Linked DNA regions of Homo sapiens: regions 1 and 2 are each linked to region 3. The links come from fine-mapping of genetic effects on gene expression. A gene starts in region 3. Each other region holds a variant in brackets. All regions are shown on one strand. Distances are between the middles of the regions.

Evidence for each region. PIP is the estimated chance that this variant, and not a neighbour inherited with it, causes the effect.
Region 1: its variant is fine-mapped to the expression of CEMIP2 in whole blood (TOPMed, PIP above 0.99).
Region 2: its variant is fine-mapped to the expression of CEMIP2 in whole blood (TOPMed, PIP above 0.99).

The regions. Positions count from the first base shown.
Region 1 is chr9:71,677,730-71,688,565 of GRCh38, reverse strand. CEMIP2 (cell migration inducing hyaluronidase 2) reads left to right here. Exons shown (of 24, transcript NM_013390.3): 23 at 2,720-2,823; 24 at 3,173-5,200. The coding sequence ends at 3,369. Among named protein-coding and RNA genes, the nearest start is that of CEMIP2, 85 kb to the left of the region's middle. The variant TATTA/A (reference allele first, on the strand shown) is at 5,225.
Region 2 is chr9:71,739,984-71,750,819 of GRCh38, reverse strand. It overlaps CEMIP2 (cell migration inducing hyaluronidase 2), which reads left to right. Exons shown (of 24, transcript NM_013390.3): 2 at 435-777; 3 at 4,479-4,619; 4 at 5,241-5,802; 5 at 10,588-10,757. The coding sequence starts at 447. Among named protein-coding and RNA genes, the nearest start is that of CEMIP2, 23 kb to the left of the region's middle. RefSeq lists an enhancer at 6,122-6,986. The variant A/G (reference allele first, on the strand shown) is at 5,341.
Region 3 is chr9:71,765,572-71,772,190 of GRCh38, reverse strand. CEMIP2 (cell migration inducing hyaluronidase 2) reads left to right here and starts at 3,678. Exons shown (of 24, transcript NM_013390.3): 1 at 3,678-3,834. RefSeq lists enhancers at 2,657-3,338, 3,339-4,020 and a silencer at 2,914-3,583.

The DNA of each region.
Region 1 (10,836 bases), 86 kb after region 3:
AAATACAAAAAACTAGCCGGCATGTTGGTGGCACCTATAATCCCAGCTACTCGGGAGGCTGAGGCAGGAGAACTGCTTGAACCTAGGAGGCAGTTTGCAGTGAGCCAAGATTGTACCACTGAACTCCAGCCTGAGCAACAGAGCGCGACTCTGTCTCTAAAAAAAAAAGAAAGAAAGAAAGACTACCATAAAGAACCCATACCAGCATGAAACTTAAGGTACTTAATCTTAAGAACCATCGAGACCCACATTAAGACATACCACACAAATTTCAACTTCCTGTAGGTATCCTTGATGACTCTGAAAATAAATCAATCTAATGTTACCTTTTAATTAATAAGAGCTACTCAGAGCCCCCTAAACACTGATTTGTTCTTGAAAATTTTTGTTTCAGTAATACCGGCCAAGAGTTCAGGCACAGTGGCTCATGCCTATAATCCCAGCACTTTGGGAGGCCATGGCGGGACGATTGCTTGAGGCCGGGAGTTCAAGACTAGCCTGGGCAATGTAATGAGACCCTGTCTCTATGAAAAATTTAAAAATTATCTGGGTATGTGGGCACATACCTGTAGTCTCACCTACTGAGGAGGCTAGGACAGGAAGATCCCTTGAGCCCAAGAGTTTGAGGCTGCAGTAAACTATACTTGCATCACTGCATTCCAGCTGGGGTGACAGAGCAAGGACCCTATCTCTAAAAAAACAAAAGAAAACAAAAATAGTTGCCCAGGCTGGAGTGCAGTGATGTGTCCACAGCTCAATGTAGTCTTGACCTCTCAGGCTCAAGTGACCCTCCTACTTCAGCCTTCCAAGTAGCTGGGACTACACGTGCACACCACCAGCCTGGCTGGTTATTTTTTGTTTTTGTTTTTGTTTTTAATTTTATTATTTTTCTAATTTTTTGTGGAGATGGAGTTTTGCTGTGTTTCCCAGGCTGGTCTTGAACTCCTGGGCTCAAATGATCCTCTCATCTCAGCCTTCCAAAGTGCTGAAATTAAAGGCATGAGCCACTGCACCCGGCTGGCCAAGAACATTTCTGATTAAAGTTTTTGAAAGAGTGAGTTTGTATGTGTACACACACACACACACACACACACACACACACAGAAAATAAATACATTATTAAATATATTGCTAAAGGATATGCAACAGAAGTTGAATAAAAGGAGAGACTCTGTTTCTGAATGGAAAATTAATAAATGTTAATTTCATGGACCAGTTTCATGGAAGATAATTTTTCCATGGACTGGAGGTGGAGGGGGATGGTTTCAGGATGATTCAAGTGCATTACATTTACTTAGTTAAAATATAAATTTGACACATTTCCATTAGTGTCCCAAAAGGTACTTTTCTACTGTACTTGACAGTTGATACTGTAGTTCATCTGGAAGAATAAATGAGAAAGTAGTAAAATATAAACAAATTACAGTAATACAAGGGCTTGTTTTTATCAAATATTAAAATGGACCGTGAAGCCATAGGCCAGCATAGTTTTGGCAGAGAAGAGCAAGATCAGAGAAGAACGGAGAATCCACAGATAGGTCCAAGTATGTATGTTGGCTTACTATGTGACAAAAATGGTAATTCAAACCATGGAAAACACATTTAGTCGTTTATTTATTTTTAGAATTGTGTTTATCCATTTATTTAATAAATAGATAATAGAACTTAAATAAATAGAGTATTTGAAACAAAACAAAACCATTCTCCCATGTTACAGTAGACTTACTCCCTGATAGACAATGGAGAAGGAAGGGTGAGGGGTGGATGACAGGAAATTACTGAATAGGCACAGTGTACATTATTTGGGTGATGGATACCCTAAGTGCCCTGACTTCACCACTATGCAATCCTATGTATGTAATGAAATTGCACTTGTGCCTCACAAATTTATACAAATTATAAACAACAACAACAACAATAGACTATTCCCTAAAAGAGCTGTGCCCCAGACCATCCACTAGGTCAGCAGTCCCCAGCCTTTTTGACATCAGGGACTGGTTTCATGGAAGATAATTTTTCCATGGACTGGAGGTGAAGGGGGATGGTTTCAGGATGATTGAAGCACATTACATTTACTGTGCACTTTTTTTCTATTATTATTACATTGCAATATATAATGAAATAATTACACAGCTCACCATAATGTAAAGTCAGTGGGAGCCCTGAGCTTGTTTTCCTGCAACTAGATGGTCCCATCTGGGGGTGATGATCAACAGATCATTGGGCATTAGATTCTCAGGAGCACACAACCTAGATCCCTCACATGTGCAGTTCCCAATAGGGTTCTGCTCCTATGAGAGTTGAATGCCACAGCTGACCTGACAGGAGGCGGAGCTCAGGCTGTAATGCAAGTGTTGTGGGGTGGCTGTAAATACAGATGAAGCTTCGCTCGCCTGCTCACCTCCTGCTGTGCAACTTGGTTCCTAATCTACTGGTACCCATCCATGGCCCAGGGGTTGGGAAGCCCTGCACTAGGTGAACGTACGTAAATGATTTGGTTTATGTATGCGTTACCCCTTGTAAGAGCAACGTGTGAAGCCCATGGTGGTGGGGTGGAAGAGTGGGAATTGGATGGAAAATCATCTAGACTTTTTTCTTTTTGGAGTTCTGCTTTTATCTAATATTTCTATTCAGCAGTCAGTTCAGAAAGATACTCAGTAGAAAGATACTCATGCTGAAGGATTGAAATTGGCTCTGACTTTCTAAATTTCACATACAGGTCCATTGTTCTGTTGAGCACAAGAGGAGAAATAAAGCAGTTAAACATTTCACACTTACTAGTACCTCTGGGATTAGCCAAACCAGCTCATCTTTATGACAAAGGTTTGTATTTGTATTATTTCATGAAGTTCTTACAGGGCCAGCAACATAGGTAATTTTATGGTGCAATTCAGCTACCAGACCATTTTCATGAGCTTGTTTGCTGGAGTGGGTATCATTAAGATGATTTCTAAATAAGGGCACAATGTGAGAGGAAGTGTGTTGGGATGTGGTTTGTTATCTGGGGCAAAAGGTGGGTGGTGAGAGTTCATTTGCTGATGTAAGGAAGTGCAGAGTTTTTTAATAGCTGCCTTTGTTTTGCTCACCTCCGACTCACCTCCTATATTCTCTTGCTGGAATGTAGCTATAAAAATTGATTTTTTTTCTTTTTCTTTTTTTTTTTTTTTTTTAGGGAGTACCATATTTTTGGGATTCAGTGGAAACTTTAAACCATCATGGACTAAGCTATTTACCAGTCCTGCTGGACAGGGCCTTGGGGTGCTTGAACAATTCATACCTTTGCAGCTGGACGAATATGGTTGTCCCAGAGCCACCACTGTCCGCAGAAGAGACCTGGAACTGCTAAAGCAAGCTTCAAAAGCACATTAGAGACTAACTGTAACTTAAGTGCTGGGGGAAAAAAAATGTGAACTAACTTATTTAATTTATGGCATTTTAAAATGACACTGTTAACCCAACGGAACCATTTTCCAGTTTGATACAGAATGGGGAGAAAAGAAAGCGTTTGAAATTATTGCTTGGATACCAGCTTCATGCACCTTCTAGTTGTACAAAATGTTAAAGACGTTGTTTGTATTTGTAAGGCTGGTGTATTCAGAGAGCAGATCTCTTATTCCTCACTTTCCACCCCCGTATTTTGTAATGACCATGAGCAATGTTTTTACTTTTTGTATAATGGGGTGGGGTGGAGTGGGGGCTTCTGAGAGTCAGCCTGAGGTCTTTAGAGGACCAGCTATTGTAGCACCTTGGATACTTGAAGTTTAATGCTCAGTTGGGTCGGGTGGCAGTTGACTTGGTGGCTGGCATGTTCAGCAGTGCCTGGGGCCCTGTTTCTGGGCAGCCTTTGAGGATTTTCTATGATATTGAATGACAGTTTTAAGTGGCAACTCAGGCCCAGCTCATGCCCTTTTTTGCCTGGACATGTGCTATTTTTATTCACTTATATATCAATTACTTGTAAGGGTTAAACTTTCAAACAGGAAGTATATTGGGACAAAAGGGCTCTTGGGGATTAGATATCCCTTTAATCTGTGACCATTGGGCAAAAAATTTTCCTGCAGCAAAAGTCTGAGGCTGTTGGGACCATTTTTGCAGCTTTAATCCTTAGCCTCTTTTGACTGTATATTTGTGTTTAAAATGCAGAGCTCAACTGAATATTTCCTTTTTTGTTTTGTTTTGTTTTGTTTTAAGAAGTAGGTTGTTTTCCTGAACCGTAAACTTGTATCATTTTAACTTGCACAAAGGAAGTCTGTTCTTGGTATTGCTCTTGCACTTGGGTTTTTTGTTATTGTTTTGTGTGGATTTTTTAAAGCTTTTCTGTTCACCCTCCTGCCAGGAAAATCCCAGAAAGCTTAATGATACCCCAAAATGATTACACCCAGGGAGGAAAAAAAGGAGCGCTTTCTAGGGTCAGAATCGTGGAGAGAATACTCAGAAATGAACCTCTTTAAAGCCTTGCAGGAATGAGTCACTCTTACTTAATGAAATGTTAAAGCCAATTAAAAAGCATGCTGTGATGCCCAGCTTCCCTTTCCACAGGGTGCATGCGTCTCCTGCTGGTGAATCACATGCGGCAAGAGGCAACTGGCTCCACAGCCTGGGATGCTGCCGTACCAAGAGGAAAGAAGCAGCAAAATGCCTTTACGTTGTTCTAAACCCCCGACGCATAAAGTGTAGAGGAGGGATGGCCAAGGGTGGGTGGTAGAAAGTGTGTTCAGGCTGACACTGGCAATGAGTACAGATAATTTCACTTTCCTCTTCTAGGGGCAAAGGCTGATGGCCTCTACCTTTGTATCCAGGAGAAACTGCAGAGCAGCCCTGTGACTTTACAAAATATGCTACCTCAAAGTGCTACCGATAAACCTTTCTAATTGTAAGTGCCCTTACTAAGGGCACATGTCTTAATCAAAGTTAGTTTTTTGTTTTCTGGTTTGTTTTTTTTTTTTGTATATTGATGAATGAGATCTTACCTATTAAATATATTATTGGATTATGGTTCCTGAAGGTCATTAGAGTGTGTGTGTGTGTGTGTGTGTGTGTGTGTGTTTTATGACTTAAATATCTTTACGTGTGTTTTTTAGAGCTTGGTTCTTTAAAGATTTGGAGAAGATATGTAAATTACCAAGGCACTTGGTTTTTCTGTTTTATATACTAATAATCAGGGCCTAAGTTAAATAAAAATATGTGTGCATGTATTTTATATATGTGTGTATGTGAATTTATT[TATTA/A]TTTATTTTATTATTATTGTTATTATTTTTGAGATGGAGTCTCGCTCTGTCACCCAGGCTGGAGTGAGGTGATGCAGTCTCAGCTCGCTGCAACCTCCACCTCCCAGGTTCAAGTGATTCTCCTGCCTCAGCCTCCCAAGTAGCTGGGATTACAGGCACCCGCCACCATGCACTGCTAATTTTTGTATTTTTAGTAGAAGTGGGGTTTCACCGTGTTGGCCAGGCTGGTCTTGAACTCCTGACCTCAAGTGATACTCCTGCTTTGGCCTCCCAAAGTGCTAGCATTACAGGCATGAGCCACCGCGCCTGGCCTGTATGTGAATTTATATCTCTATCTATAAATTTAAAATTCCAGATTCCAGCTGTAAAGAAGTTACTGACGGAAGTGAGGAAGACACTTGGTGGACAGAATCCACCAAGTAAATATTGTAAGAGTAAGCTTCAGAAGGGCAGGGACTGTATTCTCCAAGGCAGAGGTTCTCCATCTTGGCTGCACACTGGAATTACCTGAGGAGCTTTAAAAAAAAATATAGAGGCCTGGACTTTACTCCCTTCCCCCCAGATTCAGATTTAATTGGTGTTGGGTGCAGCCTGAGCACTGGAATTTTTTTTAAAGCTCCCTGGATGATTCTAATATGCAGCCAGGTTTCGGAACCACGGCACTAATATAATAGGCCCACTGTTTAACTCCAGTCTGTAATTTTTTTGTGACTAAAACAAAATTGCATTTACCTATTATTTTTATTTGCATTTCCTATATTACTCACAAAACTCCCAGCCCTAAACAAAGCATTTCTCTATTGTCTCTTTTTAATAGAAGCTTTTAATACAGTTTTTAGTCCTCAGTCCTCTCAAATCATTAAATTGGTTCTATACACTGATATATACATTTCAGGGAATTGGGAGCTAGCAATCTGTTCTATTTCTACCAAGAAAATATATTCAAAGGTGATTTATAAGTTCATAAGCATTTTCCATCAGGTGAGGCAGTTGGTTGAGCTCCAAAAATGTGGTCGTCCACAAATCAGCCAGCTGACGAGCAACACAGAGGGCTCTCATGTATCCACAGACTAGGGTTTAAGTCTTTGCTGTGATTCCTGCCTCTCCACCTGAGTCAGCATGCCATATATTATCTTCAGAGGCTGGAAGAGAGTGCTGGCAAGAAGATGAAAGGCAGACGCACCATCTCATGGACTATGACTGCAAAGCAGCCTCTAAGCTGATGTTTAGACTCGGGGATGGGAAGAGAGGATTTATGACTCCTCTGTTCTCTAACTTCATCAAGAGACAACACATCCTCATGCCATTAAAGTGGGTTACTTTGTCTTGAGGAGGGGAAGGTAATGAAGTGACAGATCGAGGCTTGAGTGCTTTAGATAACTACAGTAGGTTTTCATTCCTTAAGAGATGAGGTCATGTTTGGATGTGTCTGGTTGAGAAGCATTTCAGTAAGAAGGAATGAGCTTAGTTAGTTCAAGTGTTTTTTTCTGTTGTTCCTAGTAGATAAACACAATACATAGATTCAATGATGACAATGTTTGTTAATTTCATCATGCAGAGTTGGAGCTTACTTCTGGAATTCTTATTTGGTTTCCAGATACTTATTAAACAATGTTTAATAACCTGAGAAATTCCCCTGGAGGTAAAGACCTTTAATAGGGCAGCAGATTTGTATCATTACTGTTAGTTATGATTACATTATTACTGTTATAACCCAGTGTGCTGGAAATGTGAGCAGACACTATTTAAGCTAGTTTTCAACAAAAGGTCATGGAGGGAAAAAAAATAAAGGAACTCCATTCCTGGTTCCTTGCTCACAAATGGCAAAATGCTGTTCACAGACTTGCTAGACCATTTGAGTCATTTGGAAGAGAAAAGGTTTTTTTGTTTTTCCCTTATTTATCTTCAATTTGAGAAAAAAACTAATAAAAGGATGCTTCAGTAGGCCCTGGTGTTGTGGATAAGGGCACGCACACTTTTTATTTTTATGTGGTAAATTTAGAGAATGACTGACTGAACTGTGATTTCTAAATGAGGAACTGTGCCCCACAGGACATCCAAAATTATCAGCCATAGCAAGCTGTGAACATGTTATATCTGAAAATACAGCAAAGGGTGGACCAGAAAACATCTTTATAGATGTGTTTTTGTAATTTTCCTAAGAGGGACAAAATAATTAGTCTAAATATGAAAAATTAAGTTTTAAAGTTCATCCATAGAAAAGCTGGCTTCATGATCACAATTGAAAAATCCGAGTTGGCAAACCTCTGCCTGCAATTCTGAGCTAGGAATCATTTTTATGTTTTTAAATATAACAAAAGAAAGAAAAAGAAGAGTAATATTTTATGTGGTGAAAATTCTATGACATTTAAATTTCAGTGTCCATAAATCAAATCTTATTGGAACACAGCCAAGCTCATTCTTGTATACTTATTAACTGTGGGCAATTCCTGCTGCAGGGGTAGAAATGAGTAGTTGCTACAGAGACTGTCAGTCCAAAAATATGTACTGTTAGGCCCTTTACTGAAAAAGTTTACCAACCTTTGATCTCAGTGTAGTGTAGACCAGCGTTCATTGTCCTGTTCTTGGAACCTTACCACATTGTCAGAATTTTTTAAATAGCAACTTAAGGAAGAAACCTGCATCAGAATCGCCTGAGGTGCTTGATGAAAATGCAGGATCCCAAGCCCCAGCTCAGACAGGAGAACTGGCGTTTCCAGGAGTTGTGAAGCTGGGAATATTATGTTATAACAAGCTTTCCAGATGTTTCTTGTGAACACTAAAGTTTGACCATCTCATAGCATGTAGTGAGGCTGTTCTTCCTTTCCCTCTTTCCCTTCAACAGAGAACACATCTGAACAAAATTGATTTTTTTTAACCTTAATGATTCTATCTACACAGTCTTCCCTAGAACTTTTTCTGACTAGGGCAGATTTCATATTGGGCAGAGTATGTGGCTGTTACTGGGGCAAAGGTTTGGAGCCCGTGATTAAGTCCTCCCGCCATGATGCCTGAAATACCACTACAATGATTCCTTTGGCTACAGTTATTCCTACTCTGAAATCCCAGCCATTCTTTATTTTCTGCAAGTTTGTTTTATTATTTTAAGGATTTTGAAGGAAAATGTACATTTGGCCACAATTAGGCTGCACAGACTAACAAAAACATAAGTTTATTTGCTTTTTGATGAAACTATCCACCCTTTTTACTAATTTTACATTTATTGAAGCTCTGATTGATAATTTCAGATGTATTTTTTTGTGAGGTAGAATGAATCATTTCATACAAGCAGTTTGCTTTGTAAGCAAAAACCTTTTAATGCATGAACTTTATGGAGGGCTGCAGGAGGTGGCTGAGTAGTGGATAATGAGATTGACCCTTGCCAGGGAAGAGGGTGGGTGTGGGAGGTTCACCTTCTCCCATCAGCCCATGTTGATTGTCAACATCCAGTTCCTGAGGGAGGAGCGCCTGGGTCAGGTAGGTTTCTGATGTGGGAGAACGCAAGACTTCCAAGTCTTAGGAGGCAAGAAACATCCTTAGCTCCCACTATGGGTAGGAGAATGAGAGAATTCCGATGGGAGAGAAAGATGACAAAACTTGTTGACTCTTTCAAGAGTGCATGCAGTCAGTTGTTTTTTAAGTAAAATAGTTCTTAGAGGAAGTGAAGTGGAGTCAGGGTAAAGTGTCTGATACAGTTACTTGCTGTAGGTATGGTTGTTTTGCTGACCAATCTAGGTTTGATTCCGCTAAGGCTCTCTACTTAGCGGTGGTCCTAGGAGCAGCTTCCTCCTGAGCCTCAGGTTTCTCATCTATAAAGTGGATCCATTAGTAACTTTTGTGAAATTACAGGGGGGATTAAATGAGAACAGCTGTGGCTCCTGAACATGGCTGGTCATCAGAAACACGTGATGGTTTGTTTTCTAAAAAATTAGATTTCTAGACTCCTGTGAATTCTAATTTAGTAGTGTTTTTGTTGTTGTTGTCTTGAGGGTTAAGGATTAGGGAATGTGGATTTTTAAAAAACAAACTTCTAAGATTATGCCAGTTTTGGGAACCACTGAGGATACCTGATGCAAACCCTGCCCTAGTTTCGACACACTCTGTTGCTGTTACTTGTATCTAGAAAATGAGACCTCAGGCCAGGCAATACCCATTTACTGACTTGGTTTGAACATCACGAGGTTTGCATTCATGCTCTTAGTTGCCCTAGCACCATAACTCAACAAATCAGCTGTGTACAGACTGGAGCTATGAAATGTGGAAAACAAACAAACGTGGAAAACATGTGGCTTTACCCTGTTCTGCTGCTAGTATGTATAGTTTTTAGCTCTTCATTCTTGTGAGAGGAAACTTTAGTTCAGTTAATAATTTGTCTATTCTAACCCCTCTGTACCATAAACTAACAGGGATCAGAAGCATCTCATTTCTAACTATCTCTCAGGTTTTTTTTTTTTTTTTGAGACAGAGTCTCGCTCTGTCGGCTAGGCTGGAGTGCAGTGGCACGATCTCGGCTCACTGCAACCTCTGTCTCTCAGGCTCAAGTAACTCTTCTGCCTCAGCCTCCTGAGTAGCTGGGATTACAGGTATGTGCTACACGCCCGGCTAATTTTTGTATTTTTACTGGAGACGGGGTTTCTAGTTGGCCAGGCTGGTCTTGAACTCCTGACCTTAGGTAATCTGCCCACCTCGGCCTCTCAAAGTGCTGGGATTACAGGCGTGAGCCACCGCACCCAGCCCACTATCTCTCAGTTTTTTAACCACACACAATTTCACTTTTCCTTCCTATCAAGTAGGAAAAAATGCTAACATGTAGTGAAATGGTTTAGAGCTAAGGTTCATATAACAAGCTGAGCTGAGTTGAAGGACTTGGAAAATGAGTGCCTTTGACAACAAACCTTCCCGTGTTTCTGTGCCCCATTTCTGCTTAGTCACACCTCTGCCCCCTCCCAACTGCCCAAGTTCCACTCCTGTGGCCCTTGTTATACTGGAAGACCACATTCCCAGAACTGTTTCGTAACTCATGCTCCACTGCTGCTCACATGTTTTCTTCTAACCCTCAGGATCCTCAGCCCTTGCTAAAGTATTTCAAAATCAGGTCAGTCCTTATGTCTAAAACAAATTGTCTCTTGGGAGACAATGTGATTTTAAATATCTGCCCACAGCACCTTATAGTTCTAAAAGTAATGTGTATCTGGAATTTTTGTTGACATATCTGATTTGTTGGCTTTTAGAGGACTTTTGCCCTCCAGCAGCATATCGACCTCCATATGAGACTGATTTCGTCTGTGTGTAGAGGAAGTTACAGATCTGGAAAATTCACACCCTGGAGAACTAGTCACTGGGTAGTGAAGTCAGTACATCTACAGGATATGAGTATTTGTACTTGAGTAGAATCCCTTCTGATTACCTTCCGGAAGGTCATGGATTATACTGTGATTTTCCTCCAGCTTAAGCAATGTTCTCAGAACACAGATACTAGATGAGAAACAGTACCTGGCTCTGAAACATATAATCTACTCAGATTCCAGGCCCAGGGTCCTGGCCACAAGAAAGCATGTTTATCCTAACATCTTCCTGGAAGCTGTGCTCTGTGAGCACTGGAAAATTC
Region 2 (10,836 bases), 23 kb after region 3:
ATCTATGATCATGCCACTGCACTTCAGTCTGGGCAACAGAGTGAGACCCTGTCTCTAAAAAATAGAAATTAAAGGCGAGTTGCGGTGGCTCACACCTGTAATCCCAGCACTTTGGGAGGCTGAGGTGGGTGGATCACCTGAGGTTGGGAGTTCGAGACCAGCCTAACCTACATGGAGAAACATTGTCTCTACTTAAAAAAAAAAAAAAAAATTAGCTGGGCGTGGTGGTGCATGCCTCTAATCCCAGCTACTCGGGAGGCTGAGGCAGGAGAATCACTTGAACCTGGGAGGCAGAGGTGGCGGTGAGCCGAGATCATGCCATTGCACTCCAGTGTGGGCAACAAGAGTGAAACTCCATCTCATAAATAAATAAATAAAAGAAATTAAAAAAGAATTTACACATACTGAAGCTTAATTTTTTTTTCTTTTCACAGTAACAGTGTATCATGTATGCCACTGATTCCAGGGGACACTCCCCTGCTTTCCTCCAACCTCAGAATGGAAATAGTCGTCACCCATCTGGCTATGTTCCAGGGAAGGTTGTCCCATTGCGTCCCCCTCCTCCTCCAAAGAGTCAAGCTTCAGCCAAATTTACCTCCATCAGACGAGAAGACCGGGCAACCTTCGCATTCTCACCTGAAGAACAGCAAGCCCAGAGAGAAAGTCAAAAGCAAAAGAGACACAAAAATACTTTCATTTGTTTTGCTATTACTAGTTTCTCATTTTTTATTGCACTTGCAATCATTTTAGGAATATCCTCAAAATATGCTCCAGATGGTAAGTGTGTGTATATGCACATAGAACATATTCTAGAAGACAAAAGAGGAGGAAATAGTAGAATACTTAAAAAAAAATTTATCTTAAGTTGGCCCTAGCTAACTAATATGTAGTTAGGTAATACGAGGTGTCACTTCTTATGAATGAGAGCAATTGTTCAATAATCTGTTGGAAATGATTAAATGGTTGCTCTTCCTGTCCATTGTGCCACTTTGTTGCAGCACTCAGGGAGGTCTTGGAGTACCTCTTTTGGAAATGCTTTGAGGGCCTTCACTAAATTCTTATGGTAGGTATGATTTTTGGACTGCTGCAATTTTTTTTTTCTTTTTTTCTTTTTTTGAGGCAGTCTTGCTCTGTTGTCCTGGCTGGAGTGCAGTGGTGTGTTCTTGGCTCACTGTAACCTCCGCCCCCTGGGTTCAAATGATTCTCATGCCTCAGCCTCCTGAGTAGCTGGGACTACAGGCAAGTGCCACCACATCTGGCTAATTTTTGTATTTTTAGTAGAGACAGGGTTTCACCATGTTGGCCAGGCTGGTCTCGAACTCCTGACCTCAGGTGATCTGCCTGTCTTGGCCTCCCAAAGTGCTGGGATTACAGGTGTGAGCCACCATGCCCGGCCGCAAGTTTTTTTTTTTTTAGTCATACGTATAGTGAACTATATTAGATTTTTTTGTTTAAGTAAGTGACTAAAAATAATAATATTTGTGTTTGTGGCTTGAAATGGGCTTGGGAAGCAGTTCCAAAGGAAAAGTTTCAAATATTTTTGAGTAACAATATATATCCTGGAAGGGAAGCATCCTTTAGGATATATAAGTTCTGACACCTTTGTCTAAAAATCAGTCATTACTTCATAGTTAAATATTATGCAGGGAGATTTTAATTTCTTAAATGGTATTTTCTTTTCAAGTTAATGATATATCAATATTTTGAAAAGTTTTGAAGAAGATGGTTGCAAGTCAGCCTTATTGGAATACCAACAAAGAATTGCCTCATAAAAGAATACCATCCATCTGTCTAAAATCAAAGGACTCGGGGCTGTGAAGAGAGAAGACTCTAACAGCCTGGACTGGGTACCATATTTGTCTACAACAGATTTTTGTCAAGTTAAATGCTTCCTTAAGTGGCTGTAACAGTTCAGAGGCATTTTACTACTTATAAGACTTACAAATACTTTATTATTTAGTTTTCTTGGGTGCTTTCAAGGGATTTTTAAAATTTTAAGGTTCTGGGAGAGGTAGTGCTAGTACTTCTAAGAAAATAAACCTCAAATGAGAGAGACATGCACATTAATATCCTTATGGACCAAACAAGTAGACCACATTATGAACTTATAACATTGATTTCCATTGCATGCGGTATGACTTCCTCTCTCCTTTTCCCAGCAGAATAACCAAGTTCTCTGTGCTGATTCATAATAACCAAGTTCACTGTGCTGATTCATACTTCCCAACTCTTCTGCAGTAAAGGGATGCTAGACCAGTGGGAAATCAGAGCTGAAGTCTATGGCTTTGATTGGTGTTTTCATATTCCATCTAAAACAGGGCATTGCTGATATGGTTCCTTGAACCAACATTCTTTAGTTTCACATTTTGGCAGTGTAAAGTGCAGATCATCAGTGGAAAGATCTGGTATGCTGAAATATTTCAGGGTCAGCTTGACTGTGGTTATTGCTGTTACATAACTTTGATAATATACTCACTGCTCTTCAAGTGGGTAGCTGGGAAGGTGGGGTTGGCTGAGCTACTTTTCAGTGCTTTGTACAGACTACACATTTTCTCATTAAGTGCATTTTACTGGAAGGAAACAGACTGGAATTTTTGGTGATGGTTCTAATGAACCATGCTCTCCTGGGAAATAATTAAAAACAATTAAGAGAAATTATATAATCATTGAAGTAGGCTCCAGATCTCAAAAGACTGGATTTCCTTCTTTATAGCTGGGTACAGTGCTTGTTATAAAACTATGGAGAATTTCAGCTAGATGTTGTATGGGAAGAGGGAGGTAGAAAAGTTAAGGAATCCTCATTATTAAGGCAAAACAAATTTAAGAGTTTTTTTGTTTCTTTGATGGGAAGAAAAGCTTAAAGATTGTTTTTAGTATAATAGTGATACTCATTGACTTATCAGAAGCATTAAATATCAACAGTTATGATACTGCTGTGAGAAAAACTAATTCCATGAAATAATTGCCAAGGATATAACTGGTGAGGCTAATTGTAGCTGTGGTTAATAAGAGAAAGCATAAACCTAGGGCATTGTGAGAGCTCAGAAACAGGAAGATGTTTGCATTAGTGTTATGCAAGTTCAAAATGAGGAATCATTTTTTTTTCTGTATAGAACAATATGTTTGTGTAGCACCCTACCTCTCTACTTTTTCTCTTGTTATTCCTAAACATGTACCTGCCACCTTAATGAAAGGAATTTCTTCCTATGGTTTTTCAAGCATATCTTGCTTATTCTTACCTTAGCTGAGTTTAAATAAAGCCACCTTGGAATTCTGAACAACCAAATGGACTACTTGGATCTCAAGGGATAATTGCATTACTAGTGTTCTCATGATCCTCTTATTTAAATACTGCCCATCCTTTGGTGTCCAGCTCTCAAGTCACCTGTTCATGAAGCTGCCTCAGTTACTCCAGCCCCATGCCTCCTTTGCCTGAGGTCTTTTGAACCTCGACTGACTACCATATTGTTCAGTGTTTCATTATTTCATACTTGGTGTTTTTTCCCTCCAAAGCTTGCATATAAACTCTGAGGAAATGTGAGCTGATTCTATGCTTTATAAATTTTAAAATATCTGGTACAGAGTGGATAAATTGATGCTCCACAAATACTTGGCCATAGGTTGATCAAAATTGAAGGCGTGATTTTTTTTCTCCCCTCTTCAAAATTATGGCGGACCTTAAAGTTTTCATACATTAAATAGCTATGGCTATTTTAATTAAATACTGTTATATTTTTGTTATTATAATACCTATTCAAGAGGCAAGTTCTAATTCCAGTAAAGGAACACTACAAGTCAATAATCTCATTTTCTAAAAGGGGAAACTTGCGTATCACTCAGCTTGCTAAGTAATCTTTGGTTTCTCTAACCTGTAATTTCCTCATCTCTGAAAATGAGAAGTTATGTCTTTAGCCACTTGCCTCTTTCATTTTGTTGGGAGAGTGCACATGGCTGAAGATAGTGATGTTTCTCAGTCTTGGAGAGAGGTGCTATCAGTACTTACTTCATCATTCACTGTGTGCAAGAAGGAACTTGTGAAGACCTGATCAATGTATTATTTAGCAATTTTCATTTTTGATTTACCAGGATGTTGTGAACACATTTCTTTTCTAAAACAGCTTTCTAGTGTGAATCCCAAGAGAATGTATAATTTTGCCTCTTACTATTGGTTTATTTCCAGAGTAGATGATTCAGGGAAACTTTTTTTTTTTTTTTTTTTTTTTGGTGAAGTTTGTCCTGAACTAGATGCTAGCAATTTAGTTTTGTGGTAAAACTTTAAAATGGAAATGTGATGACAAATTAAAGGGTAAGATGGTTCTCTGCTGGTGGGAAGGCGTGGGATTTCCATTCTAATGGCAGGAAATCAACATATGTTAGCACATTTTTTGCAGATCTGCAGTAAATAATGGTAGTGCTTAGATTCGGCTATATTATTCCTGCATTTTAATGGGTTGGATGGAATATCAATGTGTTTATAGAAAATTGCCCAGATCAAAATCCTCGTCTCAGGAATTGGGATCCAGGACAAGATTCTGCAAAGCAAGTTGTTATCAAGGAGGGAGATATGCTCCGTCTGACCTCAGACGCCACCGTGCATTCTATAGTCATTCAGGATGGAGGTAGGTAATGGTTCCTGCCTATGGGAACTGCAAGGTTGCTCTTTAATGTGGGGGATATTTGATGTTCCTTATGTAGAAGACTATTTTTAGGCAGAATAGGCTTTAGTTTGTGGTGTCACTCTAACCATGGAGATTTGGAAAGATCATGAGATAAAACCAGAGAATTTATCCAGAGATAAAAAACATAGAATTTAAGAGCTTAGACCTTAGGTATCACTCAAATCAAGACCCCTGATTTATAGACAAGGAAACAGTTCCAGAGAGGTGATCTCTCAGAGCTAAATTTTTGTCACAATTCTGAGAGTGATTTTGTCACAATTCTGAGAGTTAACATGAGTAAACATATACAAAAATAAGATTCAGATTTGTAGACTCTTAGATATTTTTAAGAGAAATGATTTAACCTCTAAAGTGAGTAGGTTGAAATTCACAGTCATGGGCATTGAGAGTATATTAAGATATGAACTCTTCATTTTTCCCTTTAGTTTTCTAAGCAGATTCTTAGCGAATTCTTTTTTCCGACCTAATTGCGGAAGTGTATTTAACTTAAGGTGAAATCTATTTCCTTGTATCTCAGAAAGATGATTTAGAAGTTGGCTTACAGGGTGGTGTTCCCTGCAGGACTGCTTGTATTTGGGGACAATAAAGATGGATCCAGAAATATTACTTTGAGGACTCATTACATCCTGATCCAGGATGGTGGGGCGCTTCATATTGGAGC[A/G]GAAAAATGCCGCTATAAATCCAAAGCGACAATTACCTTGTATGGCAAGTCAGATGAAGGTGAAAGTATGCCAACATTTGGCAAAAAGTTTATTGGTGTGGAAGCTGGCGGGACACTGGAGTTACATGGGGCACGGAAGGCATCGTGGACGTTGTTGGCAAGGACCCTGAATTCCTCAGGCTTGCCCTTTGGGTCCTATACCTTTGAAAAGGACTTTTCCCGGGGCCTCAATGTGAGGGTCATTGACCAAGACACGGCCAAAATTTTGGAAAGTGAGAGATTTGATACCCATGAATACCGCAATGAGAGCAGGCGGCTTCAGGAGTTTCTGAGATTCCAGGATCCAGGTCGGATTGTTGCCATAGCTGTCGGGGATTCAGCCGCTAAAAGTCTCTTACAAGGAACCATCCAGATGATCCAGGAACGGTTGGGAAGTGAACTGATCCAAGGACTGGGCTACAGGTAGGCATACCTTCTTCCCAGATCCCTATCAGAGTCCGTGTCTGTGTGAGAGGAGAGTGAGGGTGGGGAAAGGAGCCACAGCCACAGCATGACTCAGGCATCAGAAGGGCCACTCTACCATTTGCATGTCTGGTAGCTTTGAGACATGGGGCTGGAGGATAGGACACCACATACAAAAGCTATTTTCATTGGCTTTGGTTTACAAAGCCCTTTGTGAACTGGAGTGCCAGACTTGTGAAAAGTTGAGAGCAGAAGTGTGGTACTGAAAAACAGTCAGGCAGTTTAAGGACAATTTGCCTCTGAAGATACTTCTTCCTTTCGTTACCTTCTGAAGATCATATGAAACTCAGGCTAATTGAGGCAACTTAATGAGTTTAAAGGTTAGGGCAGAATTTCATGCTAAGTTCTAAACCTGTCTTAAAAGGCTGAGGGGGTAGAATATGCAGTTTTTCTTTTTCTTTTTCTTTTTTCGGACTCCTTTGCAGGCTGATTGGAATCTGCATGTTTGATTGGCACAGGTCTATGGACCCCTGGCATATATGAGGAAGGAAAAAGTTAAAGGGCTAGGAAATTCATCCAGATAGTAGAATTCATTTCTGCTATTTATGGTTCTTGTACCCTATTCCTTTTATTTTTATTTTTAGTGACAGGGTCTTGCCCCGTTGCCCGAGCTGGAGTGCAGTGGTACAATCGTATCTCACTGCAGCCTCAACCTCCCAGGCTCCAGTGATACTTCCACCTCAGCCTCCCAAGTAGCTGAGACTACAAACAGTTGCTACCACACCTGTCTAATTTTTAAACTTTTTGTAGTTGAGGGGGTCTCACTTTGTTGCCCAGGCTGGTCTAAACTTCTGTGCTCAAGTGATCCTCCTGCCTCACCCTCCCAAAACATCGGCTTCATAGGCATGAACCACCACACCCAGCCTTCTTGTGCCATATTCTAATTAACTGTGATTTCCTAACGCAGTTCTGAGTCTAGGGGAAGTAGCCGACCTAACATTTCATTTAAAAGACAGAAGCTTTTAATTCTGCTGAATGCTTTTAGTAAAGTCAGGGAATATCTGTGGTGGAAAAAGTAAGAGTACCTCAAAACCGACATGCCGTAATGATCTAGTTACTATTTTTTCCTTTGATAGTAGGTTGTTGGAATGGGGTATTACCTACAGCAATTCTAGAACAGGCTAGAAAGACAAAAAATAGTGAAGAAAAACAGTCTGTAACATTTTAGAAATGGCTTTTATTCATGTAGGGGATATTTAGGAGATGCTAAGTGCTGGATACCCATGGATGCTTAGACGAAAGGACACTGTCTCAGAGCCCATGGTTAATCTAGTGGATAAACAGAGACCTAAATAGATGATGATCATACAGTGAGACATGCTGCAGTTACAGGGTGCAATGGGAGCGTGAGTATTAACAGAAGGAGCCTCTCAATTGGCCTAGTGAATCAGTACAGGCTCCCCAAAGGCAAGAGACTTGAAAGAAGTTCGGGAGCGTGCTGTGTAGACAGTGGAGAAGAAAGCTTTTTCAGACCAAGGGAATTCCATGTGCAAAACCTCAAAGGGTTTTTTTTTCTTTCTGGTTTTTGTTTTTGAAATATGATACACATGCAAAAAAGTGCCAAAAATAACAATGTAGAGCTTAATAAGTTGCCGCAATGTGATGCCTGTGTAGCCACCACCCAGGTCAAGAAATAGGACATTGCCAGCAGCCCAGAAGTTCCCTTCCTCCCCTCTGCTATGCATTAATCACTCTCTTCCCCACCGAAGGGAGCCATGCTCCTGAATCTGTGGGATCTACTAAAGTTTAGGTTTGCCTGTTTTTCAACTTTATATAAATGGAAGCCGACAATGTTATATTTTGTGTCCGGCTTCTTTGCACAGTGTTATGTTATTGAATGCTATTCATATTGTTGCATGTAGTGCTGGCTCATTTTCTTTTCTTTTCTTTTTTAATTTTAAATAGAGATGGGGGTCTCACTCTATTGACCAGGCTGGTCTCAAACTCCTGGCCTCAAGTGATCCTCCCATCTCAGCCTCCCAAATTGCTGCGATTACAGGCATAAGCCATGTGCCCGGCCGAGGCTCATTTTCTTTGCTGTTTATTTTCTGTCGTATGAATATACCACAGTTTATTTATTGGTGGCCATCTGAGTGGCTTTCCAGTTTGGACCTGTTACAAAATTGCTTCCTTAAATGTTCCTTGATCCATCTCTTAATGTACATGTGCATGTATTTCTATAATATATAAACCTAGGAGTGGAAGCATGATCTTTTCTAAGTTAGATACCTACTTTGTTTCATTATCCAGTAATGCCAGGGATTACAACTTGTATTTCTTCATGCTACTATTGTTTCTAGTTTTGCATGATCATTAGCTGTGACCATTTTGACTTTCTTAGGTTCCTCTCCCTACTGGTTTCTAAATTCCTTTTAAAATATTGCTCTTGATTTCATAGAGAACTTAGAGTTGTGATCTTTTGCCAGCGTTCCATTGCATTGACGTTATCTCCAATGTACATAAACACATAGGCCTTTGAAGATAATGTTCTGGTGCGCTGAAATTTTCCCTCAAGTGGAGGAGGGAAGTAGGAGTGTTTTGGAGATAATGTCGATAGAAGAGAAAGAACATTGTTTTATAGTTGCTGAGGCAGTTCTGGTAAAGAAAGGAAGCCTGTGATAATTCTTCCTCTCTTTTCTTCTCCAAATAGGAGATAATATATTGAGACATTCTTTATTTGATTCTTTCTGCTTTATCAAGTGGTATAAAACAAGCTACAAAGCATTGTCGTCCAAAGAGTAGCTAATCCATACAGGGGCGGCTGTGGAATTTGTAAGGGTGTAGGCATGCTTCGGTTAACTTTTATCTGTGAATATCTAGCCATCTGTCAGACACAGATTACATTTGTTATTTTTTTTCTAGAGTGGGAAGTTGACATTTTTCTTTTCGTGTTTTAAACCAGGAGTCTTAAAGCAGATTTTCTGGTTTTTAAAAATTGTCCCTTTGCGTTGATTGCTTTTGGTCACAAGTTTGAGCATGTCTCTCAGATATTTAGTATCAGAAATGTTTTTAGGCCGGGTGTGGTGGCTCATGCCTGTAATCCAAGCACTTTAGGAGGCCAAGGAGGTCAGATCACCTGAGGGCAGGAGTGCGAGACCAGCTTGGCCAACATGGTGAAACCCTGTCTCTACTAAAAATTAAAAATACAAAAATTAGCTGGGTGTGGTGGTGGGCACCCGTAATCCCAGCTACTTGGGAGGCTAAGGCAGGAGAATCGCTTGAACCCCAGAGGTGGAGGTTGTGGTGAGCCGAGATCACGCCATTGCACTCTAGCCTAGGCGACAAGAGTGAGACTCTGTCTCAAAAAAAAAAAAAAAAAAAAAAAACCAGAAAAGAAAAAGAAATAATGGTGTTTTCAAACACATTGCTGTCAACAAATAGACATATAGTATATAAAATTTAAAATCTGTTGGATAGTGATTCTACAGCTTTGATTTAATTTAGGAACGTTAAGAAATCTCTGCTGGCTGCGGTGGCTCACACCTGTAATCCCAGCACTTTGGGAGGCCGAGGCAGGCTGATCACCTGAGATGGGGAGTTTAAGACCAGCCTGACCAACATGGAGAAACCCCATCTCTACTAAAAGTACAAAATTGGCCGGGCGTGGTGGCACATGCCTATAATCCCAGCTACTCGGGAGGCTGAGGTGGGAGAATTGCTTGAACCTGGGAGGCAGGAGGTTGCGGTGAGCCGAGATTGCGCCATTGTACTCCAGCCTGGGTAACAAGAGCGAAACTCCATCTCAAAAAAAAAAAAAAAAAAAAAAAAAAAATCTAACTCAGTTCTCAACCTTGCCTGCACACCTGGAGACTTTAAAAAATCTTGACACCTAGGGTGCACCTTAGATCAATTATGTCAGGAAGAAGGATAAAAGAAGGATAAGACTCCCAGGCTACTGAAGGTTGATGATCACTACTCTAACCTCTAGTCTATAATTTAGGGGTTTTCAAAGTATGGTGCCCTGACCAGCAGCATTAACATAATGTGGTAACCTGTTAGAAATACAAATTCTCTGGTCCCATCTCAGAAACTGAGAGAGTGGGGCCAGCAATCTAATTCAGCATGCCCTTCCTTTCTTCTGTTGATCCTGATGCGTACTGAAGTTTGAGAACCACTGCCCAAATCAGTGGTTTTTAAGCCTAACTGCATGTTCCAGTCACCTGGGAACTTTAAAAACATAGTAAGACCCTGTCTCCAAAAAATAAAAATAAATTATTGCAAACTACAAATGCTGTACCCAACCTTTTGCAATTATTAACATGATTCCCTTTATCTGGGATGGGGTCTGTGCATTGATATATTTTTCAAACTCCCTGGGTAATTCTATTATGCAATTAGATTTTTGAGAACATTGTATTAATAGAAAGTTTAAAAGAGAGCATGTGATAATCATTTTAAGAGAAAGTAAATGGATTTTGGCCAGAATGTTATGTGTGATATGGATGTGTATTGAGGAAGTAAGTCAATGATTAATTGAAATTGTAGTCATCGGTCTTTCACCTATTACAGAGCTGGACAAACAAGTATTTAAAAAGTAGCTGCATTTCCTTCTAGGAGAACTAGGTGCAGTCAAGGTTTGGAACTGCAGCCTCATATAGAAAAAACATTAGGGATTGACGAAAATGAAATATGAGAATTAAACAGCACTCTGTAATAACATCTTTGTCAGGGATTTTGTGAATACCATGACAAGTAATCAAATGCACATGCTCTTTTTCCTTCTAGGCAAGCTTGGGCTTTAGTTGGTGTCATTGATGGTGGAAGCACTTCTTGCAATGAATCCGTGAGAAACTATGAAAATCATAGCAGTGGCGGGAAGGCTCTTGCCCAAAGAGAATTTTATACTGTGGATGGCCAGAAGTTCTCTGTGACAGCTTATAGTGAATGGATTGAAGGTAGGCAAGTAGAGTTTATACTCTTGTAAGACACTGATAAGTATTATGACAGATTTTTTTTTTCTAAGAATAGTATTAT
Region 3 (6,619 bases):
GGGTACACCCCAGCTACTCCCTTTGCCCATGCTGCTTCCTGCCTGTCCCCCACAGGTGAAACATCTTGTCAGTGTCTCAGAGCCTGCTTCCCTGAGAACTCAATCTGTGACATCAGTCCCATTGATCAGAGAAGTCTGTGTCCTCTTACTTTGTTGGTTTCCTTCATAGCTTCCTTTCACATCAGTTTCCTTTGATTTTTTTTTTTTTTGAGACGGAGTCTCCCTCTTTTGCCCAGTCTGGAGTGCAATGATGAGGTCTTGGCTCACTTCAACGTCTGCCTCCCAGGTTCAAGCAATTCTCCCGCCTCAGCCTCCCGAGTAGCTGGGACTACAGGTGCGTGCCACCATGCCCGGCTAATTTTTGTATTTTTAGTAGAGGTGGGGTTTCACCATGCTGGCCAGGCTGGTCTTGAACTCCTGACCTCAGGTGATCCGCCTGCCTTGGCCTCCCAAAGTGCTGGGATTACAGGCTTAAGCCACCGTGCCCGGCCTTTCCTTTGATTTTTTATGTTCCAGATAAATATCTAAAAACAAAAGTTTATACAATTCTCAAAGATAGGCCACACACAGATTCAATCCCCCTACCCTTTTTTTTTTAGTTAACAGACTATATTTTAGAGCAATTTTAGGTTCACAACAAAATTGAGCGCAAGTGTAAAGAGGTCTCCTACACCCCTGTTCCCCACTAGCCCACTCCACTATCAATCAACATCCATTTCCCTTGGTTTGGGCAATAAATACAGATTGTGGAAATAAATAAGTCCTTTTTAAAACCAAAAATTTTATTAGACTAATGTATATAAATTTTTAATTGCTTGTTTTGTTTTGTTTTGTTTTTTTGAGATGAAGTCTCGCTCTGTAGCCCAGGCTGGAGTGCAGTGGCTCGATCTTGGCTCACTGCAAGCTCCACCTCCCGGGTTTACGGCATTCTCCTGCCTCAGCCTCCCGAGTAGCTGGGACTACAGGCGCCTGCCACCACACCTGGCTAATTTTTTGTGTGTTTTTTTTTAGTAGAGATGGGGTTTCACCATGTTAGCCAGGATGGTCTCTATCTTCTGATCTTGTGATCCACCTTCCTTAGCCTCCCAAAGTGCTGGGATTACAGGCGTGAGCCACCGCGCCTGGCCTAATTGCTATTTTTAACATTTGAGTGGTTTGCAGACTTGATTCCAAGAGGTTCTTACTGTGTGGCCTTGGGAAGACCCTTTAAATTTTCAAGTCCTACTGTCCCATCTTTAAAACGGAAATAATAATTAGTGGGAGGATTTAATTAGACAACATATCCCATAACATATCCTAACTCCAAGCAAAGTGCCTGGCACTTAATAAGGATTCAAAAAATGGATATTTGTAATATAAAGTTGGCCCAGCACAGGCCTCCTATGCTGCAACATATCACCCAAACTCAGTGTAGCTTACAACTGAAGTTTATTCTTTCACACTTCTGGAAGCAGGAGACTGCGCTCAGTTTCACTGGGCCAAAATCAAGGTGTCAGCAGGATCTTGCTCACTTCAGAGTTTCTAGGGGAGAATCCTTGCCTCTGTGCTGGCATTCCTTGCCTTGTGGAGGCATCGCTTCAATCTCTGCCTCCACAGTGGCCAGCCCTCCTCTGTGTGTGCTAACCACCCCCTTTCCCCTTATAAAAGTACATGTGACTGCAGTTAGGACCCATCTTGATCATCCAGAATAATCTCCCCAACTCAAGAAGACCCTTAATTGAATCACATATGCGAAGGCCCTGCTTCTGTCTATGTAAGGTAATATGCACAAGTTCCAGGACTTAGAACCTGTTATCTCTGGGGAGGGAACATTTTTCAGCCTAGCACACGGGTGACACAGTTTCTATCTTTATTAAGCACAATCCAAAACACCTTTGGACCATGAAAACAGTCTTTTGTCCCTTCCATCTTGTTATTCAAAACTATGTTCCTTATTTTAAAAACCTTTCCTCCCTGCCTATCCCAGAAGGGACAGCGGCTCTCAAAGGCAGCTGGGTGAAGTTTCTGTAAGATCTCAGCACTAGCTCGCGCTGCTGTTTTGGAGGCATCTTTCCAAGGCTTTAATTAATTAGAGGATGCATTCTAGCCCTGTTTCCCAAACTTACATATTCCCGATACCTCTGATTCAGTAGATTGCGCGACGTCTGGCAATCCAATTTTTTCTAAGTGCCCCAGGGGATTCTTATCATCAGCCAAGATTTGGAAACAGTAATTTCTTATACAAAGTCCTGAACTAATACCCTTGAAATAGGGGATTCCCCTTCACTGCCGGGTGTGTCGCGGTTACAGGACTGAGTTTGTTGAGGGAGGAGGAATGAACAACCCTGAAAACTAAACTATCCTACCTTGTATATTATTCACTGAAAGAGTTTCCTGGAGGGAAAACTTCCAATTCCAATTAAATCGAGGATGACGACGGCCCGGATTTGGCAGTCCTGCAGCTGTCACTAGCTCGGGACCTCGTGCGTCTGAGTGATCCAGCCCGGGCCGCGCCCTCACCCAGAGCCAAGGCTGTGAGAGCAGCTCCAGCGAGGGGGCAGGGTGGCGGCGGCAGGGCTGCTTCAGGGCCGGTGCCGGTGTCCTCAGAGCGGCGTTTTGGCACTGGGGTGGGCCGGGGCGTGGCTTTCGGCGCCACCTCTGCAAGCGGCCGCCACTCCAGAGTGGCGCAGGTAGGGGGCGTGGGAAGACCTAAGTATATTTATTCCGGCCTGCGAGCGGGATGCTGGGGTTGCTCCAAGGGACCAGAAGAGCTGCCCTGTGTCCCAGAGCAGGCTGGTTCTTCTGACAGCGCTGAGAACCTGGCGCTCGCGCCTGGCCAGGTAGGGGCTGTGACTGGACGCTCAGAACATTTGTGGGAGTGTGGAAATCTCTTTACGGGTGATGGGGCTCAAAGTCTGACGCAGCCGAGGGTTGATGGGGTGCAGTCACGCTCAGCCAGGGGACTTTGGGGGCGCAGTGTCAGGCTCAGCCAGGGAGTGACAGGCGCAGTACCAGCCTTATCTGGGGGTGCTGGAGGCACAGGCTCCGGTTCGGCCAGGCGGGTGTGCGCGCCCAGGAAGGGTAGGAGCCTGCAGCCGCAGCGGGGGGCGCTGGCTGGGGCTCTGCCCCGCCGGCAGTGCGCTCGGGCGCTGTTCCAGCGCGCGGCAGCGAGTGGCGCTGAGCCTCCGCTTTCGCAGCTCGCGGGGAGCGGGGCCGGCGGGAGGGGCCGGGCGGGGCCACCGCCTCCTCTGATGGCAGGCTCCTCCTCTCCCTCCGCCTCCCTCGCTCTCCACCGCCCGCCCGCCCGCCCGCCCAATCCACAGTTCCCGGCCCAGCCGAGCCGGGCTGCTTGTCTGGCCGGCGGAGGCTGAGCGCGACCCTAGCAAGCCGCGGCGCCCGCCGACCAGGGACAAGAGCGACTCCTGGGACCCCACTCTGCCCCGCGCCGCCGCCTCCTCCCCTGTTGTCGCGGGGACGCTCAGGCCCGCGCCGCCCGGGCCACGATTCTCCTCCTCTTTCTCCCGGAGGGGAAGGAACGGAGAAAGCCGAGCGGCGGCTCCGGGAGAGAGCGAGCCGAGGCCCCTGCCCCCGAGGCTCGGGGCAGGAGGAGGAGGAGGAGGAGGAGGCGGAGGCGGAGGGAAGTGCGCGTCACTCTCGGGAGGAGAGTATTTCACCTCCAGGCAGAGGCTGCGGCTGCCAGTTGAGTACGAGCGGCAGCTGCGGGCGCCGGCAATCGAGTGGCTTCCTGGCCATGGAGAGGAGATCTGGACCCGAGGACGCCAGGGACTCCTCTCCGTCTCCCTGGACCGCTGTGTAGGCACCTGAGTTAACGGACGCTAAGCGGGGTAGGGGAAGGTAAGAAGCGACTCGGTCACCCGCCCCCCCACCCCGCTCCACCTCGTTTGCTGCCCTCGGGGGCCACTGCGGGGACGCAGACCCGGGTCTCGCCCACCTTTTCTGCTCCCGGCGGCCTGGCCGGCTCCGGCGTTGGGCATTTCTGCCGAAAAGGAAAACGTCCTCCCGCCCTTCCCCCGTGCGCCTCCTTTCCCGGTTTCATCTCTGGATTGGGACTGACCCGACTCCCCAGGAGTCAGTCCTCTCTTCTTAAGAAAGGGTCCTCGGGAACGGTGTCTTGATTTCTTTCTCTCCACTCTCTCTTTTCATTACGTTTACGGGGAAGGGAACAATGGACCTTTCAAAGTCGGTGCGAACAGCCTTAAACTTTCTGGAGAGGGATGGGGTGAGGGGATAAACCCCACAGTAAGCCGATTACAGTGAAAGGTTGATGGAATGTGCTTTGCAGTCCGGGCTTCAGTGCGCGCGCGCTTGTGCGTTTGGGGTCATCTTTGTCTCCTTACAATTCCCCTGGGTTGGTGGGTCCTCCGCCCTCCGCCCCCTGCCTCTCTGTTAGCTGAGGTAAGGTGAGGCTTTAAAATCGTGTACAGCTTCCTTTAAATCTGGGGAATAGCCTTAGCCCTGGACCCTATTCCCAGCTTTTCTCTGCAGAGTTGGGAGATCCTGGTAAAGGAGGGGGGCCCTCTCTGTGAGGACCCAGAGTGCTGCTGTTAATAGCACTAGTGGCTACACCCTTAGCGATAAAACCAAGGTCCTGAATTCCCTGGATGCTCTCTGCTGAGGGTTGATGAGTGTCACCAGACTTCGACCTGGAGCGGAAACAGCTCACTTGAATTCTCCGCAGGTTAGGAAAACAGACTTTGATATATATCTCCTTTTATCAGCAGTTGGGATTAAGGATAGACTGCCTAATAATTTTTAAAACTTTCATTGTGCACATGAGCTACTCACTGCCTTGAGTTCACTCCCCTTGATTCAGTGTGACAGAGTGATGCGCTGCTGCACAGTTGCATGTATTGAGATGTGCTGCTCTTCCCGGTAAAAAGTGAGAAGAATTTAGAGAGAGGGGAAAGGGTAGAGGCTTCACCTGAGCTGAGGGAGGCCTGACTCCCCAGAGCAGCCAGGCAAATCTGTTGGAAATGGCTCAGTGTTAAAAAAACACCTTTAAAATGGTTAGCCTTATCTTTCTTTGGTTGGCTAGAATGGAGCTACTAATGCTTATTTGACCCTTGAAGGACGCTTGTTCTTTTCAGAATTGGTCTGGGTATCATACTGTGGTTGTGGGTCTGATTACCTATACAAAGGGTTCTTTTTAGTTTGCATTTCTGGGCAAAGCAGAAGAATGTGTAGTAGGCATGTCCTCTGCTTAGTAAACATTGGGTAGCACTTTAGAGTGCTTTTCTCTTCACACCGAAATGACTTCCCCCAGCTTCTGTGTACCTGCATTAGAGGATCAGTTTGGGCGGAACTGGAAATCTGTCTTCTGGCTTTCTGTTCAGTCCTCCTGACGCTGTTTTTTTCTGATGTATGTGTGCTTAAAGGCTCAGAAAACTAAGATTAGAAGCGAATTCTGAGTCATCACCTGTTCTTATTAACCTGTGAATGAGATAGTGAGCTGAGGACTCTCCTGTGTGTGGACAGGGAAATAGAATCTGTAAATTCTTACATGGTGTTTATCTGGATATTCTGTGTCACAGTTAATTATTTGAGTAGTCTCCTTCCTTGATCTAGTCTGTAACCAGTGACTTTTCAGAAATGTCAGATTCATAACAGGAAACCAGAATGGGGCAACACTTCAGTCATGTTCTAATAGGCCTAATCAATGCTGTCCTCAAACAGCTATCAAGAAAAGACAAGCTGGAGGGTAATGTAGTCTTGTGGGCCATTATCTTGAAGTTGACAGGGTACTGCTTAGAGCTACATGCTTTGGGCAAGTTTCTGAAATTGAGAAAGACAAGCCACATTTTAGAAAGAGGAAACTTAGGCCGGGCACAATTGGCTCACGCCTGTAATCCCAGCACTTTGGGAGGCCGAGGCAGGTGGATCACCTGAGGTCGGGAGTTTGAGACCAGCCTGGCCAACATGGTAAAACCCTATCTCTACTAAAAATACAAAAAAAAATTAGCCAGGTGTGGTGGTGCACGCCTGTAATCCCAGCTACTCGGGAGGCTGAGGAAGGAGAATCGCTTGCACCTGGGAGGTGGAGGTTGCAGTGAGCCGAGATCGTGCCACTACACTCCAACCTAGGTGATGGGAACGAGACTCCATCTGAAAAAAAAAAAAAGAAAAAAAAGAAGAAACAATAATCACTACCAAATTCATGGTCTTAGACTCACATGGAGTGCTGTATGTAAATGTGTGCATTGTGATGTGTGCTCTAAAATATGTATGAGCATTGCATCATTCACCCACCCACCATCCATTCAGCTAGCACTTATTAATCACCTATTGTGGTCCAGACCCTCTGGAAGCAATTGCAACACCTGCTTTGTGGAGCATTCATGTTGGTAAAGAGAAGGAGTTGAAGTGGTTGCAACCCGGGAGGCCACAGGGATTGAAGATACCTGTGTCACTTGCAACTAGAGAGATGACAATCTCTGCTATTGAAGAAATGAGCCTAGCCCCGGACATAAGGAAATGAACAATTAGAAGGTCCAATAAGTGCATGTCTGGGAGAATTACGCACAGAACGCTCTAAGAAGCCAGAGAAGGAACAGTTGGGGGTGGGGGAGCAATTTTGTGAGAAATAAAATTTGTTAAATCAGACAAAATAGTAGGGACTGAA